Linked DNA regions of Homo sapiens. The protein of the gene in region 2 interacts with the protein of the main gene of each other region in a pairwise test. Each region holds a gene or a part of one and is shown on either strand. Other genes may lie near its edges.

The links.
Region 1: the proteins of RAB3IL1 (region 2) and TIGD7 interact in binary tests that used the Homo sapiens proteins (3 or more experiments, as listed by UniProt).

The regions. Positions count from the first base shown.
Region 1 is NC_000016.10:3,301,451-3,312,196, forward strand, and holds the start of TIGD7 (tigger transposable element-derived protein 7), read right to left. Parts: upstream 3,981-10,746; 5' UTR 3,762-3,980; intron 560-3,761; 5' UTR 1-559. Other genes in the region: ZNF75A (zinc finger protein 75A), read left to right, coding at 6,979-7,386, 10,303-10,498.
Region 2 is NC_000011.10:61,898,723-61,908,881, forward strand, and holds part of RAB3IL1 (guanine nucleotide exchange factor for Rab-3A), read right to left. Parts: intron 9,585-10,159; coding exon 9,332-9,584; intron 8,939-9,331; coding exon 8,843-8,938; intron 8,749-8,842; coding exon 8,671-8,748; intron 8,381-8,670; coding exon of another isoform or gene 8,286-8,380; intron 7,963-8,285; coding exon 7,744-7,962; intron 6,161-7,743; coding exon 6,032-6,160; intron 5,937-6,031; coding exon 5,824-5,936; intron 3,820-5,823; coding exon 3,720-3,819; intron 659-3,719; coding exon 592-658; intron 210-591; coding exon of another isoform or gene 1-209. UniProt on the Homo sapiens protein: Guanine nucleotide exchange factor (GEF) which may activate RAB3A, a GTPase that regulates synaptic vesicle exocytosis. Promotes the exchange of GDP to GTP, converting inactive GDP-bound Rab proteins into their active GTP-bound form.

The DNA.
Region 1 (10,746 bases), on a different chromosome or scaffold from region 2:
AAATAATTTATTTGTCAGTGGCACTTTACCATTCTCAGATCTTCTTTCTTGGGAACATCTGATTTATTCTCAAGTGCTATTTTTCACTGAAACTGTTCTCTATTTGAGATATTATCAAGTTTCAGAATCACAGCAATTCTCAGAGATGAGCCCAAAAGTTTTACAAATATTTCACCATAGTTAAAAATTTTTAAAGATCTGTCCTTTCATTTGTTTTCCTAAATTTACACTATAAGTAACATACTTTTTATATTTGAGATTTTGATTTCTCTTCAGTGTTTATTTTACTTAATTTGAACCAAGACTCAACTTTTCCACAGAAGAAATCTAAAAGGTTTCTCTGCTGCTGTTTCTGATCAATTGTTTCTCATAAATCCTACTGGCAAACTCTTCTGTCCCTCTAGGCCCTCAAATACTCTTTTCGGGTCCTCCTGGTGCTCCCCAAAGCCATTCCAGGTCCTTAGAAATGTCTTAGTCTAGATTAATTTCCTGGTTCTCAGTCCAGATACACAACCTCATGGGAAGAAACAAAAACTGCCACTTTTATCCATTCCAGGTGCTACGAAGAAAGAAAAGTATGTCAGAGAAATAAGGGAAATGGCTGGTATCTCAGTTATTCTTCCTCTTCTTTAGGGCAGAATCTGACTGGCCCATTCATTCCTCAACTACATAGAATTCTCTCTCTTTTTTTTTTTGAGACAGAGTCTTGCTCTGTCACCCAGGCTGGAGTGCGATGCCGCCATCTCGGCTCACTACAACCTCTGCCTCCCGGGTTCAAGCAATTCTCCTGCCTCAGCTTCCTGAGTAGCTGGGACTACAGGTGTGTGCCACCACACCCGGCTAATTTTTGTATTTTTTTGGTAAAGAGGATTTCACTATGTTGGCCAGGCTGGTCTCGAACTTCTGAACTCATGATCCGCCCGCCTCAGCCTCCCAAAGTGCTGGGATTACAGGCGTGAGCCACCACACCTGGCCCATAGAATTCTCTTAGGTCTCTCATCTAAAAACCCAGAAGAGTCAGACCACTGGTTTTCCTGTAACATTCATTGCAAGAAATGCCAACTATGAGTTATAGAGCATGGAGAAGATTACAAGAGAATATGGTAGTAATTAGGGGGTGGAGCCAATGGCAGGCTACGATCAAGCAACTTTCTAAATGAGGCAACTATAATTAAGGCAGTTAGTAAGTGATAACTCAGACATAAATCTTGGTTTATCTCTTTCACTTATAAATAGAAAAATAAAAAAGTATTTGCTAGCCAATAGCAGCACCATTAACTCAAGCTAGTCACCTAGCAAAAATATTCAGGCCACTATGACAGTTGTGTAGGTGTCTCAGAATTAATGTATTTGCTTTCAATGCTTCTCAGCTGTGCCGTCGTCTTTTTTTTTTTTTTTTTTTTTTGAGATGGGGTCTGGTTCTGTCGCCCAGGCTGGAGTGCAGTGACACAATCTCGGCTCACTGCAACCTCTGCCTCCAGGGTTCAGGCCATTCTCGTGCCTCAGCCTCCTAAGTAGCTGGGATTACAGGCACGCACCACCATGCCCCGCTAATTTTTATATTTTTAGTACAGACAAGGTTTTGCCATGTTGGCCAGGCTGGTCTCGAACTCCTGACCTCAAGTGATCCACCCACCTAGGCCTCCCAAAGTGCTGGGATTACAGGTGTAAGCCACTGCGCCCAGCCACAGTCATCATTTCTAAAACAGTGCCCAAGCAAGGGGAGGTGAAACCAAAAGGAAAGGCTCAAGGAATGTTTGTGGGCTTCAAAGGATAAGCCACTATGGCAGCAAACCTCACACAATGAAAATCACCAGTGCCTCTTATTCACTATTCACAATTTGTGCCTTGCTGCCTCTTTTTCCCATGAATCCCTTTTCCCTTTAACCAACTTCCTGTGTTATGAATCAGGCCTGTCAATGATATCCAAGGGCACTGCTTAGCACTGCTAGCAGAACTTCACTTATTCAACTTAATAAATTCTAATTATATATTCAGCATTGGGCCAGGTGATGAGAATCTTAATGCTGATGGCGCTACTGTCCACTGGTTCTGATAGACTGAGAATATTTACTGCTGAAGAAATGAAGTCCCAACCTGGCTGAGATTTTAAGGAAATGAACCTACTTAGACACAAATTCAAGTGACTTAGGCAGATGCTCATTATTAAATCTGTTTATCTTTCTCTCTCACTTAAAAAGGATCAAGATCTATGCCTAAGAGGAGTTACATACCATCCCATCCAAAAGCAAAAATAGCATAATGGCCTGGTAATGGCCTCTCATCTTCATTCTCACCTTAAACTTACCTTAGATGAACTGCCATAGAAAGCAGCTCAGTCCAAAACGCTCAAATGGTGCTCCAGGATTTACTTTTTTGTATTGTTTTGTTTTGTTTTTTGCGACGGAGTCTCGCTCTGTCGCCCAGGCTGGAATGCAGTGGCGTGAACTCGGCTCACTGCAAGCTCCGCCTCCCGGGTTCACGCCATTCTCCTGCCTCAGCCTCCCGAGTAGCTGGGACTACAGGCGCCCACCACCACGCCCGGCTAATTTTTTTTTGTATTTTTTAGTAGAGACGGGGTTTCACCATGTTAGCCAGGATGGTCTCGATCTCCTGACCTCATGATCCGCCCGCCTCGGCCTCCCAAAGTGCTGGGATTACAGGCGTAAGCCACCGCGCCCGGCCAGGATTTACTTTCTTAAATGCACTCTTTTCATTCCCATTCAAAGGACTCCAGTATAAGTGCCACATAAACTCGTTTTCTAACTTTTAAAACTCTTCCTCTAAATGCAGCCCAACTCAGTAAAAACGTACCTAAGATCTCACAGTCTAATGTTTCCAGCTTTTAAAGCCTTTACTCCTACCCTTCCCTCTGCCTGGAAAGTGTCTCCATTCCCTGCTGTGGACAAAATCCCTCAAGGTCTTTTATAATTTCCCCCAACCCCAAATCAACTTGGATTTTCTTGGAGTTCTCACAGCATTCAGTTTATGTCCTATTCTTACCCTTGTGTTACTGATATTCACGAAATTGCTCAGTCCTTTCAAGAGATTGCTTAAGGACAAAGACTTCTTACTCAACTCTGCAATATTGGCTACACATAGCTGACTTAATAAATAGTCCCTTGACTGGTATAAGCTGACGTTACAAAAACTGGTAATTCCGAAACCACTCATACTGGACTTATTAAATAATCCCTCAACTGGTACAGACTGACATTACAAAAACGGATTAATTCAGAGATCACTGAACACCCAAAACACTCAGATTCTTATAACTATGATTCAGTAAATATGTGTGGAATGCCTATCTTACCAGGTGACTATGTTAGGCGCTGCATGAGATATAAGATGAAAACAAGGTTCCCATTTTCCAGGGAAGAATACTGGAGTGGAAAACGCAGAGGATACCACAACAGGAGAGCTATTTCCGATTAGCGGCCGCCACTGCTGAGCTATGTGACCCTGAGCAAGTCACTTCTTAGGTCTCCGTTTCTCTGTCAAGGAGAGATAGAAAAAGAACCTATTTCACAGGTTCAAACCTACCTCAAGAAAAAATAGTTGTGGGGAATGCGTCACGAGACCTAGAAAACGGTACAAAACCCTCGGGGGGCCGCTGTTTCTGACCTAGCGAGTGGCCCGACCCGGACAAAATGCCTCTTCCTCGAGGAGGCGGCGACGAGCCCAGCAACAGCTCGAGCACGGCCGGCCGGGCCGCGGGAAGCCCGAGAACGCGGCGCGCGCAGCTGGGAGGCGACCCTTACCCGGCGAGGCTCCCGGGACCAAACGCCGCCCGACAGCCACGCAGAACAGACGCGGCAGTGCGACGCCTCCCCCACTGGGGACACGAGACAGCGACAGCCACGCGGTGAGCCGGTACAAGGCCCTCTAGGCTTCAGCGGGTCTGGATACTCGGTGGCATTAACCCTTCCCTACCGCCGGGGAAGACAGCAGTTTCTCTGGCGAGGAAGTAGGCCGGGCTCAGGCGCCTTAGCCAGAGGGCGGGCCTGCGCCACCCTCGGAAAGCGTCACTTCCACTTCCGGCCGGCGCTCTGGCTCTGTACCTGGACAGGGCTGCGGTAGGCCAGCGGTGGGCTGGCGGTTGCGCTCCTCAGATCGGCGGCCTTTCGGGCGGTGGCTTGCGTTTGAGCCTCAGAAAGCGAGGAGCGGCCTCCACGGAAGCCAAGCTGGCCGAGGTAACCGAGAAGCGGCTTCCCCTATGGCTTCGACCCTGGAGCCGCTGGAGCGGCGGCGGCCGCAGGGAGGCAGCCATTTTCCGTAGGCGGTGGCCGCGGCGCTTCCGGGCCGCGCGGCTGGAGCCTGAGGCGGGGCCACCGTCGGGCACGAGAAACCATTCTCTCCCCGCTTTTCGCAGCTGTATCCCAGAGGCGCGGCTGAAGCTCGCTGGGACACTGCCCGCTTGCCCAGTGCCCACGGGCACGCCTGTCGCAGACACAGGCTGTGGCGAATCCGAGTGCTGGCGGGCAGCAGTGCCTGCAGCTGCGCCCGCAGACTCTTTCCCGCCTCCGCCGGCATTTCCGTGTCCGGCCGATGTCATGCGGTCGGTTGAGCCTCAGGGCTAGCAGCTTCTACTGATGCAAAAACATAGGAAGTGTCTCTTTGCTTCTGGAACCGGGGTGGGCAGCAAGGAGCTGGCCACTTCTTTGAATACCGGTGGCATCCTGGGCAGAATTTCGGTGCCGTTTCTGCTGGCTCACTTCAGGAAAAGTGAGGCTCACGGCTCTCCTCAGCCCCCCTTAGAAGTCTAAATGACCTTTGGAGAAATACAAAGTCAGCAGAAAGTTTCACTTTCATCGTCACCAACTCCTGTTGGAGTTGATATTTCATAAACATCAGCGACAGAAAGAAAATACGACTTGATATTTTGTAAATAAAATATCCTTTTTTACAAGTTGATATTTTGTAAACAGAGGTCAGCTGTAATTTTCTCCAGATCAAGTAAGCACAGTTAAAAATTCATATAGGCCTGGCGCGGTGTTTGACGCCTGTAATCCCAGCACTTTGGGAGGCCAAGATGGGTGGATCACGAGGTCAGGAGATCGAGACCACCCTGGCCAAGATGGTGAAACCCTGTCTCTACTAAAAACACAAAAATTAGCCGGGCATGGTGGCACGCGCCTGTAATCCCAGCTAGTCGGGAGGCTGAGGCAGGAGAATGGCTTCAACCGGGGAGGTGGAAGTTGCAGTGAGCTGAGATCACGCCACTGCACTCCAGCCTGGGTGACAGGGCGAGACTCCATCTCAAAAAAAAAAACAAAATTCGTATAAATCATCTGCATGGCACCCTTTATGTGTGTTGCAAAGAATGATGAGCATCTTGTTGCTTACTTGGGAGACATTGTCTGAAAATAGGCTACTTTTTTACTTTCTGTAGTACCCCCTCCCCCCACTGTATCTGGGTTTCACTTACCCGCTGTCAACTGCCATCCAAAAAATATTAAATGGAAAACTCCAGAAATAAACAGTTCATAAGTTTTAAATAACTTTTTTTTTTTTTTTTGGAGATGGAATCTCGTTTTGCTGCCCTGGCTGGAGTGCCGTGGCACAGTCTGAGCTCACTGCAGCCTTCACCTCCCGGGTTCAAACAATTTTCCTGCCTCAGCCTCCTGGGTAGCTGGGACTACAGGCGCGCACTACCACACCTGGCTAATTTTTGTGTTTACAATAAAGAAGGTTTCACCATGTTGGCCAGGCTGGTCTTGAAGTCCTGGTCTCAGGTGATCCACCCACGTCAGGCCTCCCAAAGTGCTGGGATTACAGGCATGAGCCACGGCGCACCGCCAGTTTTAAATAACTCTTACTACAGTGTTTTATTGTTAATCTCTTATTGTACCTAATTTATAAATTAAGGTATCATAGCTATGTATACATAGAGAAAATAGTATAATGCAGTTAGATGCTGTTGGGGGTTTTAGGTATTCACAGAATGTACTGGAACTTACCCCCCTTGGAGAAGGGATACTACTGTATTTTGATCTCACCGTCTCAGCTCTTTTGCCAGTATTCCTACAATGGAAAATCTAAAATGTTGTTTTTTAAGGTGCCTTTATTTTTAGTTTTTAAATTAGAGACAAAGTCTTGCTCTAACTCCCAGGCTGGAGTGCAGTGATGAGGTCATGGCTCACTGCAACCTTGAATTCCTGGGCTCAGGCGACTCTCCCACCTCAGCCTCCTGAGCTAGAACTACTGGTGTGCTCTACCATCCTGGCTATTTTTTTTTTTTTTCTTCAAATTTTGTGTTTTGTAGAGACGGGGTCTCGCTATGTTGCTCAGGCTGGTCTGAAACTCCTGGCTCAAGTGATCCTCCCACCTCGGTCTCCAAAAGTGCTGGGAATGCAGGCATGAGCCACTGCACCTGGCCTAAAATATTTTTAAAGTGAAGGCTTCCATCTTCACAAGAGGATGAAGGGTCATAAAAGTTGTACTCCCCTTACTAGAGACAGACTGGGATGATCTGTTGAAATTTAAGAGAATCTCAGAATGTTTTCCTAATCTTATTTTCTCCTATTCTTTTCTTATGGGGAAGATGGGATAGGAGGCACACCAGTTAAATCCTTGGAAAATCCCAAAATACCTTTCAGCCAGTGGGTGCCAATTTTCTTACCCACCAATCTTTCCTAAATTGTTTTCTTTTTTATAAAAAAGACAGTTGTCCACTGACATTTGTGTGTTTTGTGCTGTGCTTCAGCTGAATAATAGAAAAGGAGAAAAACAAAGGGCCTGCTAGTTGATTTTGAAGGGAAGACAGGACACCTTTTCTGTTCTTCTTTCTCTCATAAGTCGCAAGTGATGAGGTTCATGTGAGTTTCTTATTGATACATACTTTTCTTTTTCTTGTCCTCAGTGCTTTTAGGAAGAAGATCCTTTTATTGCTTTTGTACAAGACCAGACAGGATCTCATTTGTTAAACGTGGTACCAATTGGGTGTCTTAACACAGGAGCAGAACTTCCTAGAGCAGAATGATGATGGTAGATCTGAAAGTGGCTGCGTACTTGGACCCTCAGATCAGGGCTTTGTGGGAGACCAAGGGGCCTGCAAGAGAGAGCTCCGGTCAGAGTAAAAAATCTCCTCAAATGGACTGTCTCGATCCTAAGAGCTCTTGCTGGCACTTCCGGAATTTCACCTATGATGAAGCAGGTGGACCCCGTGAGGCTGTCAGCAAACTTCAAGAATTATGTCATCTATGGCTGAAGCCAGAGATCCACTCAAAAGAGCAGATACTGGAACTGCTGGTGCTGGAGCAGTTCCTGACTATTCTGCCCAGGGAGACACAGACCCAGATGCAGAAGCACCATCCACAGAGCATTGAGGAGGCTGTGGCTCTGGTAGAACACTTGCAGAGGGAATCTGGTCAAACATGGAATGGGGTGAGAAGAAAGATTCCTGACATGTACAGTGAAATAGGATGCAGGTGGATATAGTAGAGATGGTGGCAGTTAGTTGAGAAATTAGATGGATTAGGTAGGTCATTGTTTGGTTTTTTTTTTAAGGACAGTTAAGGTGGGACTTGAAACTACAGGCCCACAGAAAAGTTCACAGGTTTCAGAGATTGTGGTAGATACTTCCCTGGCCTTAGAGAAAGAGAGTTGCTTTTGCCCTCTTTGGAGCCAGGGTGAATTGAGGGTGTTGGGCCTAGTCTGGCTTGGCCAAGGAGACAGGACTTAAGTACTTAGAAACAGAATAAAAGGTAATAAAGAGTCAGGGAGGCTGGATGCAGTGGCTCACACCTGTAATCTCAGCACTTTAGGAGGCTGAGGCGGGTAGATCACCTGAGGTCAGGAGTTCAAGACCAGCCTGGACAGCATGGTGGAACCCTCTCTCTACAAAAATAAACAAATTAGCTGGGCATGATGACCGGTGCCTGTAATCCCGGCTATCCTCGAGGCTGAGGAGGGAGAATCATTTGAACCTGGGAGGTTGCAGTGAGCCGAGATCGCACCATTGCACTCCAGCCTGGGCAACACAGCAAGACTCCATCTCACAAAAAAAAAAAAAACAAAAAAAACAAAAAAAAAACGGGCCGGGTGCAGTGACTCACACCTGTAATTCCAGCACTTTGAGAGGCCAAGGCAGACAGATCCCCTGAGCCCAGCCTGGGCAACATGGTGAAACCCCGTCTCTACAAAAAACATGAAAATTAGCCAGGCATGGTGGCACACACCTGTGGTCCCAGTTACTTGGGAGGCTGAGTCAGGAGAATCACCTGAGCCCAGGAGGTGGAGGTTGCAGTGAGCTGAGATGGCACCATTGCACTCCCTTGGGTGACAGAGTGAGAACCTGTCAAAAAAAAAAAAAAAAGGCAGATCCACAAGGAGAACACAGGAAAACAAGGACACTTAAAGAAAAGGAGAAATTGGCCAGGTTCGGTGGCTCATGCCTATATTTCGAACACTTTAGGGGGTCGCGGTGGGAGGACTGCTTGAGACCAGCCTGGGGAACATAGTGTGACCTTGTTGCTATGAAAAAAAAAAAGAAAATAAGCCAGGCTGATGGCACATGCCTCTAGTCCCAGCTTCACAAGAGGTTGAGGTGAGAGAATTGCTTGACCCAGAAGTTTGAGGCTACAGTGAGTTATTATTGCAGCATTGTACTCTGGCCTGGGCAACAGAGTGAGACCTTGTCTCTTAAAAAAAAAAATGTTTTAGGCCAGGCGTGGTGGCTCACATCTGTGATCTCAGCACTTTGGGAGGCTGAGGCGGGCGGATCACAAGGTCAGGAGTTCAAAACCAGCCTGACCAACATGCTGAAACCCTGTCTCTACTAAAAATACATAAACTAGCTGAGCATGGTGGCGTGTGCCCGTAATCCCAGCTACTCAGAAGGCTGAGGCAGGAGAATGGCTTGAACTCGGGAGGCAGAGGCTGCAGTGAGCTGAGATTGCACCACTGCACTCCAGCCAGGGCAACTGAGCGAGACTCCATGTGAAAAAAAAAATGTTTTTAAAAATTAGGAAAAATCCAGCCTGGGCAACATGGTGAAGCTCAGTCTCTACAAAAAATACAAAAATCAGCTGGGCATGGTGGCGTGTGCCTGTAGTCCCAGCCACTCGGGAGGCTGAGGTGGGAGGATCACCTGAGCCTGGGGAGGATGAGACTGCAGTGAGCCATGATTGTACCACTGTACCCCAGCCTGGGTGACAGAGTGAGACCCCCGTCTCAAAACAAAACAAACAAACAAAAAAAACAACTAGGGGAAGACTGCACAAGAAAAGAAAACATAGAAAAAAGGGAAACAAAGATTTGGAAAAAAGAAAAATCCCAACAGAATAGCCAAGGACAGGAAATGCACTGATGGGTAATGTCCTCCCTATAGTAGATGAAAGTCTCTACTGCCTTCCCTTAATGCTTGTTCCTTGGCTCTGCTGACAAGTTGGGAGCCAGGGTATGAACTTGGTGGGTGGCGACACATCTGCTGACCTCGGGTCTGCTGGGAAGAATACAGGGCAGGACCTATGTTTGGTGTCAGAATCATCTGGAGGTAGGTTGGAGCCACTCCCCTTTTTTCTCCATTCTATCCCCATTCTCTGAAAACCTTCGCTGGCTATAGGGATAATCAGGCTGACAGGAAAACTTTTAAATTCATTTATTTGAATTTTAGAGAAAACTAGAAGACAGAAAACCACAACTGTGGGATTGAAGTCAACAGAAAAGGCCTGACAAGACAGTATTAGAATGAGTGGCCTGCCTGGCTGGGCACAATGGCTCACACCTATAATCCCAGCACTTTGGGAGGCTGAGGTGGGCAGATTACCTGAGTTTGGGAGTTTGAGACCAGCTTGACCAACATGAAGAAACCCCGTCTCTACTAAAAATGCAAAAATTAGCCAGGCGTGGTGGTGCATACCTGTAATCCCAGCTACTTGGAAGGCTGAGGCAGGAGAATCACTTGAACCCAGGAGGCAGAGGTAGCAGTGAGCCGAGATTATGCCTTTGCACCCCAGCCTGGGCAACAAGAGCAAAACTCATCTCAAAAAAAAAAAAAAAAATGAGTGGGCTGCCCAACCCTGCCAGTGGCCTGACCTAGACCGTATACAGAGGAGTAGAAGCTGCTGTGTTAAAGGGCTGGCAGGCACCACAGTTTGTTTCCTTTCACCCTAGTTTTCTCATATTTGTGTATAGTCATTTGTGGAGCATTGGTGGCCCAGTATCTCTTTAAGCCTTTTTTTGTCATTTTTTTTAGTGTCTTATACTACCCACAATGTGGGCTGTACACCTGTCGCTCTGCCTCCACCCCCACAAACCAAAAGTAAGTTCTGTGGTAACAAGGATGGGAATTATTTCTAGGTTGCAGTCCATGAGCTGGGAAAGGAGGCAGTGCTCTTGGGAGAAACAGCAGAGGCCTCAAGTTTCGGGCTGAAGCCAACAGAGTCCCAACCAGTGGGCGTATCCCAAGATGAAGAATTTTGGAATACATACGAGGGTCTGCAAGAACAGCTCAGCAGGAATACTCATAAAGAGACTGAGCCTGTGTATGAGAGGGGTAAGGAGCTTCATGATAATTTTCTTCTCCTGGGAGCTGTGATAATAGTTTATTCACCCAAAATGTCATGGGCATTTTTTGAATACCCTGCTCTGTGGATTTGTAAAACCAGCCTTGATAGCAACTATGATGTCCTTCCAGGCAGCAGTAGAAATGCCAACTGTGGATGAAAGTGGGAGTAGGCCTAGAGAACAGAAATATCTAAACCACAGAACTCTTGGTAATAACAGTGTGAACTCTGTTCCTTA
Region 2 (10,159 bases):
AGTGAGGCGGGGACCACAGCGGCCATCCAGGGACCTAGCAGGTGTCAACACCCAGCATGCCTTGGCCTTGGCCTCCAAGAGGACTTGACCCCCAGGATGGAGAGGAGATAGCTCCTTACTCAGAGGGTCGGGCCAGACTGGTTCAGGAGAAGACTCAGCAGCGAGCAAAGGTTGGTGGAGGAGCGGGGAGCCAGGCCTTGCAGAATGGGCTGTGGGGGGAGGGGGTGGAGGGAGGCCCTGTCCAGCATGGAGTGGAGTGGGAGCAAAGGCTGGAGGTGGGTGACCCTGTGTTCAGGTGACCAGGAGGAGGGGCCACCACCTCCAGGGCCAGGGAGAGATTCACAGGGGTGGCCCCCTTGTGCGGGGCCGGGAGAGGTTTGGGGACAGGAGAAAGACCAGCCGGACGGACTCAGGTACAGAGCTCAGCACCCAGGAAGTTTGTGAACGCTTTACTAAACCACAACCCTCCCCGCTCCCCAGCCTCCTAGCTGAGTCTTGCCTCCACTAGGGGCAGGTGGGCCCAGAGGGCACTTCCCCATCCAGCCCCACTCCCGTGTGCGATCCCTGCACCGGCCACCAGGGGGCGCTCACCGTCCTGCCGCACCAGGCCTTGCTGGATGTAGCGGATGTAGGTGAAGAAGTTGCACACTGCGGTGATCTGTGGGCAGAGGTGGGGACGGTGTGACCTGCCAGCCCCACGCTGGGGGTCCCCTGACAGGCGGATCTGAGTCCAGAGCAGGAGGCCCCAGGTCCCTGCAGAGCCAGGCAGTGCTCCCTGACTCAGCTGGGACTGGGCTTTCAAGTAGTAATCAACAACAGCATGACTAGCCCTGCTGTAATAGCAGCAGCAGCAGCAGCAGCCATTTCATCAAGCGCCTGCAGCGAACGGAGCAGACGCGCTTATTATTCCATCTTACATGGGGGAAAGCGGAGCCACCCGGGGAAAGCCGCTGACATCCATCACGGAGATGGCGGAGCTAATGAACCAGCATGCAGCAGAGCTGTGAGATGAACCGGGCAGGCTGTCCCGGAGTCTACACTCGCCCTCTCACAGGCCGGCTTGCTCCAGATGCTGGAGTTTTGGGCCAGCCAGGCCTCAGTCCAGTGCTACTGATAACACTGGGAAAGGAAAGGGGGTCAGAAGCCGCTCACCTGGGCTGCCCGGGGCCCCTGGGGCCTCAGGCCTGCTCCATGCCAGGCCCCGGGGACCCTGTGTTGGCTCAGACACTGCTATGAGGACTCACACCACGGAGAGGGTACTGTTGGTGCCTGGCCCAGGGCCCCTTCCCAGGCCCGGGCCCCATCTCCCAGCTGCTGAGAGTGGGGGCACTAATGGCTCAGAGGTGCCCCCCTCTGTACTCACTCCTCCTGTAGACCTCAGCCGATGACTGACTTGTGTGGAGATAGAAAGGACAGTCCCCTTGCCTCAGGGTGGAATCAACTCTGCTAAGAGCCCGGTGGATGGGGCTGAAGCTGGGCTGTAGCTAAGGCCACATCCTGGCTGGACTCCCCCGTCCCTTCCCTCATTCTCCTGGGAGCTGCACACAATCTCCAGGTGAGGCTCTGCCTCTTCGGAACCCAGCCTAAGACAGGGTGGAAGGTAGCCGGCGGCTGTGCCCGCCCGCAACAGCCCCTACTGAATGTCCAACACTCCTGGGGAGGGACATCAAGTGAGAGGGGCACCCGCAGGCTGGGGAGTGGAGAAGCTTCGGGGAGGGGCGGGACGGTGGTGGCCTGGCAAAGATAGGGAGGTGCGAGAGAGCGGGGCGAGGTCGGGGGACCAGCCCGTCGTGGCAGGGACACCGCTGCACAGGGAGGGTTGAGGAGAGGCTGCGGCAGGAGGGTGGGGCAGGGCAGAGCTCAGGACAGGAGCAGGGACAGTGGATGCCCACAGAGGCTCATGAGCAGGGAGTAGCAGGGAGGGGGCTTTCCCTCTCCAGGGAGTGTGCTAGGGAGAAAACACTTCTCCCTGTGGACCCCACATGTCTTGGTCTTTCAGGGCAGGGACCACATCCTAAAACTTCAGACCCTCCTCACCTCATCTCCCACCCCCAGCTTCATCCAGTGCAGCAGGACACCCAGGCCAGGGACTTAAAGTGCTAGAGGTGACATTGTTGAGCACGGGAACATCTTTTGTGGGGCCTGCTGTTGAGCCATGGTTGGGCCTGGAAAGCGGTGATGGAGATAAGTGGCCACTGAACAAGGCTCAGTGGGCACAAATCCACAGGGTAGGGGCTGCAGTGGACTCAGAGCCAGGATCCCAGGTCTCGGTGTGTGGCCCTGAACACACCCCTTTCCTCTGCCAAGGCTCAGCCTCCCTTTTGGTAAATGGGTGCTCAGCACACCGCTGGGAGGACTCACGCTCGGATGCCTTGTGGAGTTCATCAAGGACAGTATAGTCTGCTGCCAGCAAAGGGACCATTTGTCCCCTTTAGACCTGCTCCCCTGCGAGGAGCCTCTAGCAGGCCTGAGATGGTTCCTCAAGCTGTGTCACTGGAAACGTGTTTCCAAACATGTTCTCTTGTTCCCCTCAATCCTCTTAAGAGTCAACAGAGGGACAGAGGAAGAGGAATCCCTGTCCTCAATCCCCAGCTTGGTGAGAACCCCTGTCCTGGTCTGGGTCACTCGGCAGGGGAGGGTGGGAGCTGGGATTCCTAGAGGCCCCTTGGCACTCACGGCCGACTTAAGGCTGGTGCACCAGACGCACCGCTGAACCTTTTCCAAAGCTTCGGCCAGCACCTGAGTCTGGGCGTCAGGAGCCCCGCACTCTAACTGGAACTCTAGCATCACTCCTGGATTAGGTGACATTGAATGACAGAGGGGGGCGATGTCATCCCATGACATTTCATACATAAGGCTGCATCTCAGCCGACTGGAGAGTGGCCCTCCTGATGGCTCTGAAGTCAGCTGCCCTGTGCAACAAGGCCCTGTGGCAGGGGACTGCGGGTGTCCTCTAGAAGCTGAGGGTGTCCCCTTGCCAGCAGCCAGCAAGAAAATAGGGGCCTCAGTCCTTCAAACACAAGGAACTGAATGCTGCCAACAATGTGAGTTTTGAGGAGGACCCTGACTTCCAGAAAGGAACACAGTCTGCTGACAGCTTACTGCGACCTTGCAAGTCCCTGAGCAGAGAATCCAGTAAGTAAGTAGTGCTTAGACTCCAACATGGGGAACTGCGCTATTTTAAGCTACCAGGTTGATAGTAATTTGTTACACCGTAATAGCAAACCACTGCCCTTGGCTTGGCTGTGTGGCCCGAGTCAGTCTCTGCGCCTCTCTGAGCCTGTACCCTGCTCTGTAAATCAAGATGTAAGGCTGGGCGTGGTGGCTCACACCTATAATCCCAGCACTTTGGGAGGCCGAGGCAGGCAGATCACTTAAGGCCAGGAGTTCGAGTTCAGCCTGGCCAACGTGGTGAAACCCCATCTCTACTAAAAATACAAAATTAGCTGGGCGTGGTGGCACATGCCTGTAATCCCAGCTACTTGGGAAGCTGAGGCAGGAGAATTGCTAATGTCTGCCTGGGAGGCAGACATTGCAGTGAACTGAGATTGTGCCACTGCACTCCAGCCTGGGTGACAAAGACTCTGTCTCAAAAAATAAATAAATAAAATAAGTAAATCAAGGTGTAGTGCTATTCATACTCCCAGGCCCAGGGCCCAGTGTCCCAGCACCCAGGTGGCCCCAAAGGAGTCAAGTAACGCTTGCAAAGGCTGACTCACCCTGGCCCGGGAAGATGGCGAGATGTAGTAATGGCTTTTGGAGTCCCCGAGCCGGATTCGGTGGCGGCAGGTGCGGGTCAGCCCGCTCAGGGCACATGTGCTAGGGGAAAGCAAAATGGGTCACGGGGGCTGGCTGGGGCTTGCCCCTCTCCCTCACCCCTGCATACAGGGAAGATGCAGCAGCTGAGAGGATGCATGGGGAGGGGCAGGCCTCCCTTCCCCCACCCGGCTTCCAAAGGAACCCAGAGCCAGGCAGAGAAGGGAGCTGGCCCCAGCCATCCCTGGGACAGACCTCGAACTAAGCTGAGCTGTACCCCTAGAACCCTTGTTTTGCCCCTACTGGGCAAGAGAGCTTGGTTAATCTCATGCCAGGTGTACAAAGTCCCACCCTCTGCAGGCTCTGCATATGCCTCTCCCTCTACTTCTGGGGACTCAGACCAGGCACTCCTCCCCCAACTAGGCCAGAGTTGAGGTCTGGCTGCCTCCCGCTTCCCAACATCCAGCAGCTCCCCTGCTTCATCCATGCAGGCCTTCTGACCCCACTAACCCCCATGGTTCTCAGCCGCATGCCAACCAACCCCGTCTAAGAGCCTTCTCCCATGCCCTCTTCTCTCCTCCCCCCAGTCCTGCATGACGTCGCTCAGCATCTTCAGCCACCCACATGAAGGGTCTCCACAGGCCCTGAGCAACCCCCATCTGGGCCCCACTCCCCAAACCTGCTCTTCACTGGCCATCATCTGCTCGGCTCTCTCCTCCTCACCCTCTGCTTGGTCACCAAGTCCCCAGGCCAGGGCACAGCAGCAGTACTTTTGGCCTGCATCCCCTTGGCTCCTTCTGGCCAGCTCTCTGCCTCATCGCTCTCTTTCTTCTCCACATCAGAGCCAGGGCTCCTCCAAAAACCCACATCTAACCCATCATCTTTCTCTCTTGCTTTCCTAATTCCCAAGAAATGGGGAGAATCCCAAATAAATGAAGGTTTAAAAAGCTCCTTGGCTGCGGACTTATCAGAGCATTTGTTGCCTCCTGGTTCACTGGGACTCTCTGATGGACCAGAGAGCCTCTTTTCAGGTGGCAGCTATTGATGACTTTTTTTTTTTTTTGAGACAGGGTCTCACTCTGTCACCCAGACTGGAGTGCAGTGGTGCAATCTCAGCTCACCACAACCTCCGTCTCCCAGGCTCAAGCAATTCTCCTGACTCAGCCTCCCGAGCAGCTGAGATTACAGGCGTGTGCCACCACACCCGGCTAACTTTTATATCTTTAGTAGAGATGGGGTTTTCTCCATGTTGGCCAGGTTGGTCTCAAACTCCTGACCTCAAGTGATCCACCCGCCTCAACCTCCCAGAGTGCTGGGATTACAGGTGTGAGCCACTGCACCCGGCCTATTGATGACTTTTGCCGCACTGGCTGGTGGGTTAAAGCCCAAACCTGTGAAGGCTCTTTATACTCTGGCCCCAACAGCCTCTGCAGCCTCCACCCCAATTCCCTGTCCCCCCACTGCTTAGCCAGATGCCCCAGTGGTGCTTCCGTTAATACTCCAGCTTCTCACACCTTTGCACATTCCGTTCCCTCTGCCTGAAATGCCCTTCCCTGCTTGGCAAACTTCTATTCATCCTTCAAAACCTGGCTCAAATGCTCCCTCTCCGTGATGAGCCTCCCACCAGGGCACCAGCCATCCCCAGCCAGGCTCTTGGCTGCCAAGGTGAAATCCTCCCCAATTTCTGCCCCTTGCTCCACCCTGGCTATTTTGTTCTGCTGCTCCCCTGCTCAATGCCAGGTGAGTAGCTGGAGGACAAATGCCAGGGCTACTGCGTCGTTATTTATTGGCAGGGGCACAGCCAGCAACTGATAATCATGGTTCAAGAAAAGAAGGGGAGGGCACAGAGCAGACCAGTCAGGAAGAGGCAGACCCTAGCTCCCGGCCTCTCTGGAAAGCCTGGGGGTCCACAGGAAACCTGCCAAACTGCCTCCTTGCCCTGTGGGGGCAGCAACTGTCCCTGTCCTGTCGGCGCTGCTGCATCCTGACCACCCCTCGGCACAGTAAACACACGGCTTGGCGGGGCTTTCCCACATGGGCAGGAAGGAGCTAAGACCCTCAGCTTACTTGGTGCTGCTACAGTCAACCTCGGCCACCTTCACTGTGGGCAGCGTCTGCGAAGCCACCGGCTCAATGGTGAGCGTGTTGTCCTCCACGGCGGCCCGTACCAGCACCGAGAGCTGTGGCAGACCAGGGAGGCAGGCAGGGTGGTAAGGGGCTGGGCCCTGGCGGAGGGGTGTGTCCCCCAGCTGGCCCCGCCCCTGCCATGCCTCACCTCCTGCATTGTGAAGTCCAGGCAGGGGCCCACGTCCTCTCGGTACACCCTTTCCAGGAAGGGGCAGGTCTTGTCCAGGGTGGGGGATTCCCTCCAGGCCTGGAACTCTGCAAACAGGATTGTGTCCACCTGTGGGGGAGGGCAAGCGAGGGTGGGGGCGGTCAGGGTACTGGGGCCAGCATAGAAGATGCAGGCTGAGCTGAAGGGGAGCGAGGGAGGACGTGGGGCAGGCCCAGCAAGCCAGCAGGTCGATCCCCAGCAGCCGTGCAGGGAAGCCAAGTCCAGCAGCAGCAGAGCTCCCTTCTGCCCTTTGCACCAAAGAATTTAGAACTAAAAGTTTTGTTTCCAGGCCGGTGTTAAATTTCTTGGCGCTACTGGATTTTAGAGTGGGGTGCAGGGCTTTGTCCTGAAGACCCTCAGTGCCTCCTTGAGGAGGAAAAGTCAAAGAGCAACTAGCAGGAGGCCACAGGTACCAGCAGGTACACAAGCACACACAAGCACGTGCACACAGGAGGGGACACACACAGGCTGCCCTGGGCCCACACCTCAGAGGTGACTGCTGGCCTGCTCCAGGCCACATGCAGAATGAGGGAGGCTGGGAGGGGGCAAAGTGGGAGGCCCCTCTTTGGAGCCATTTACCTGTCGGGAAAAGGAGGGAGAGGGAGTGGAGGCAGGGGCTGGGGGCTCCCCAGGTGGGAGCGGCCAGGCCGGCTCGTAGGTGAGGTGAACCGCCTTGCTGGGGACCACGCAGAGGAGCAGGGAGAGCAGCGGGGCCAGCCCGGGCTGGGCCGGATGGACAGACAGACAGACAGACAGACAGGTAGACAGGTGCACAGAGACAGAACAGGAGGAAGGGGAGAAGTTAATGTACATTCAGAAGCTCAGAGCTCAGGAGGTGGATGAGGGCCTGCTCGTCTTCCCTGGAGGCCCTGGAGACAGAGGTGGAAGCCAGGATGGAGTCGAGTGGGCTGGCGCCAGGGACCCAGGAAGCTGAAGGCACCACAGCCCTCTGAGGCACTACCTGGGTGCAGCCTTGAACTCAGCTCTTGATGTCCCTGTCTCTGGTTCCTCCAGCAGCCCCGGGAGGCCCCATTTATCAGGTGAGAAAGCTGAGGTGCTGACAGGTGGCCTCATTTGCCTACAGACCCATGACCATGAGTGTCAGCCCAGCCTGGGCCCAGCAACTGGTGTGGCCAGCTGAGGTGGGACGGAGACACCTCTCCAAAGGCCACGCTTGTCTCAGCCCCACAGTCAGAGGGTGCCAGAAACCCCTTGAGCACAGGGCTGTCACCAGGTGGTCCTGGGGCTCGAGGCTGTGGCCACACGGGGTCCAGGCAGCCTCTCCCCTGAGGCCCAGTGGCTGCTGCTTGGCCTCTTAAGGCCAAGGAAGTGTGTGTCTCAGTGGAGGCCCCAGATCCTCAGGGCCAAAGCCAGCCTCAGGTGCAGAGACCACTACCTACTGCTTGGAGTCAGTGGGGCAGGGAGGGGGCCTCAGGTCCCCAGATGGTATACCCTGGAGGCTGCAGGCCAAGTGCCTCAGATCACAGGAGGTTGGAGAGAAAGGACCTGCCCAGCCCTCACATCCCAGAGAGGCGCAGGACAGGCTCCAGGTCACACAGCATGGGGCAGGCTGGTCCTCACTGGGCTCGGACCCTGCCTACCGCAGGCACTGCCACCCTTCCCCGTGCCCAGAGCCCGCTTCCCACCCTCACCTCCTTGCCCTCTCTGTCTGGGGTGAGGGTGTGTCCCGCAGCGGGACACACGGCGGGGCAGAGGGTGCTGCTGGTGCTCTTGTGGCGAGAGTGGCCCTTTCGGGGCCCGGCCTTGGTGGGGCTCAGCAGCTGGGGGTGAAGCTCGCGGTTGGGAGAGGCTGGTGTGGACGTGATGACCAGCGTCTTCAAGGCTGTCACCTCTGCCTGCAGCATGTCGATCTGCATGGGATGGGATGGCTGTCAACCCTCACCCAGACTGGATGCCATCCTGGCTGCCACCGCCTATCAGCCTAACTCAGGACAATGCACCCCTGCAGTGACAGGCACTTAGTCCCACCCGACGCCCTCAGAACAGCCTTCGAGGCAGAGACCCAGACACTCGTTTTACACATAGGGAAACTGAGGCTCACAGAGGCGACATGGCCTGCCCAAGGTCACTCTGTGAGCAGGATTCTGTTAGGAACAAGTGTCTGGGAGCTGGCTGGGCCTCCCATGAGAGTTCTGGGACCGCCCCCAGGAGCCAGGAAAGGCCCAGGCCTCACATTTTGCAGATGGGCAACCAGGCTTGGAGAGAGGAAGCGACTTGCCCAGGCTCAGACAGCCATACTGAGTGAGGTTTCTGCTTTGTAAAGTGGGGCTGGGAGGAGAGGGAAGAAGGTACAATAATCACAGGGTCCTCCCAGCCCCAGCACTATCCCAGAAAAGGCTCTGCCATGCAGCAGAATCACTGATGGAGCCCCGGGACACTGGGCCCTGTGATCTCAGACCCCCACCCTTCCCTTCCCTCCCTGGGCCTAGGTTCACCCATTCCTGCTGGCCCCACCGGGCCAGGTGAGCGTCCACTCGGGCAGCAAAGCTCAGTGCTCGCTGAGCCGGGAGGCAGGGGGGGTGCCTGGGCTGGCCTGGGCAGGCGGGGATGGGCCTCACCTTGCCCCGAGCCTCCTTCAGCTGCTTTTCTGATGCCGCCTGCTTCATGTTGGCTTCTCGAACCATCTTGTGAGCTTCCTAGGAAGAAGGCAGTCCCTGCGTGAGTGGTGAGGAGCCAACGGACGCCCAGATGACCCATTCCCCAAGTTGTTCCCGCGCCCAGCCGGTGTACCTCAAACAGGCTGGCCGTCAGCTCTTCCAGCTCCTGTTCTAGCTGCTCCCGCACCTTGGACAGCCGCTCACATTCCTCGTCCTTTAGCTTCAGCTCCTGGAGGAAAAGAGGCAGGCACTTGAGCACCTCAGCATCCCCAGGCCTGGCACGGGAGGGACCAGGCCCACCGGACCAGGTTCCATCCCCTCGTCATTTTATGTGGGGCTCAGAGTTTATTTCCTCTGGTGCCTGACAGTTTGTGATGCTTTTTCCGTTTAGCCACAGCATGAAGCTGAAGCCCTGCCTGCCAGTTCATCAGAGCTCAGGGCACGTTTGCAGTCAAGACGGGTGACCATCGGTGCGCCCAGTACAGGCCTGGCCAGCAGCTGGCCTCGGTGAGGGCACATCCCTCTCCCTTGGGCACATCTCTGGGCACCTGATGAGAGCCCACAGCTCTCCCAACCTGACTTCTCCCCACCGAAGACCCCCCAGCCTACTGCAGGCACCCACCTTCTGCGCTCTGTGCAGCTCCTCCTTCAGGAACTCGGAGCCCTTCTCTCGGATCTCCATGGAAGAGCTGCGCAGGCGCAACACGTCCAGCTGGGCGGCTGCGGGGCCCTCCTGGCCTTGGGCCTCCTCCCCTGCAGAGGTCTCCACCAGGGCTCCTGGGGACTCCCTGTGGCCTTGGCAGGGGTCCGTGCTCTTCCAGGGGACCGGGACAGCTGCAAGGGGCGGCGGGAGGCCCTGGTCTGGCTGGGGTGGGCTGGAGACAAACAAGGGTATCAGCAGGTTCAGGGTGGGGTCCTGAGGCCTGGAGAGCTGAGTCCAGAAACCGCCCCGGGGCAATGTGCCTGCCACTTGAGCCTCAGCCTTTCCATCTGAAAACTGGGACCCTACCAGCTATCATCAGTGTTGTTACAAGGGCAAATGTCCAAGCACAAAGTCTCTTGGGGCAAGAGGCTTATTACTCTTTGTCAACCACCCCTTCCAGCCCAGGGCTGAGGGCTGTGTTTGGCACATGCAGTAGGTGCTCAGCACACAGTAGGTGGTCAGCGTCTTTGTCTAACAGGTGACTGTAAATGCATCAGGGTTGAGTCCCACTTGTATTAAGTGAAGCCTATTCCAATGGCCCTACCTCAAAGGTCACTGAATGATCAGAGGAGGTGTGGGTAAAACCTTGACACCTCGGATGCACTCAAGCAGGAGCTGCCTTCACTGATACAGTTAATGCGAATTCTGCCCCTTTCAGGGTGGACCAGAGAGGAAGGATGAGGCCAGGGCAGGCAGGGCTGAGGCAGGAAGATTCTGCAAACAGCTTGGACAAGACAGACCCACTTC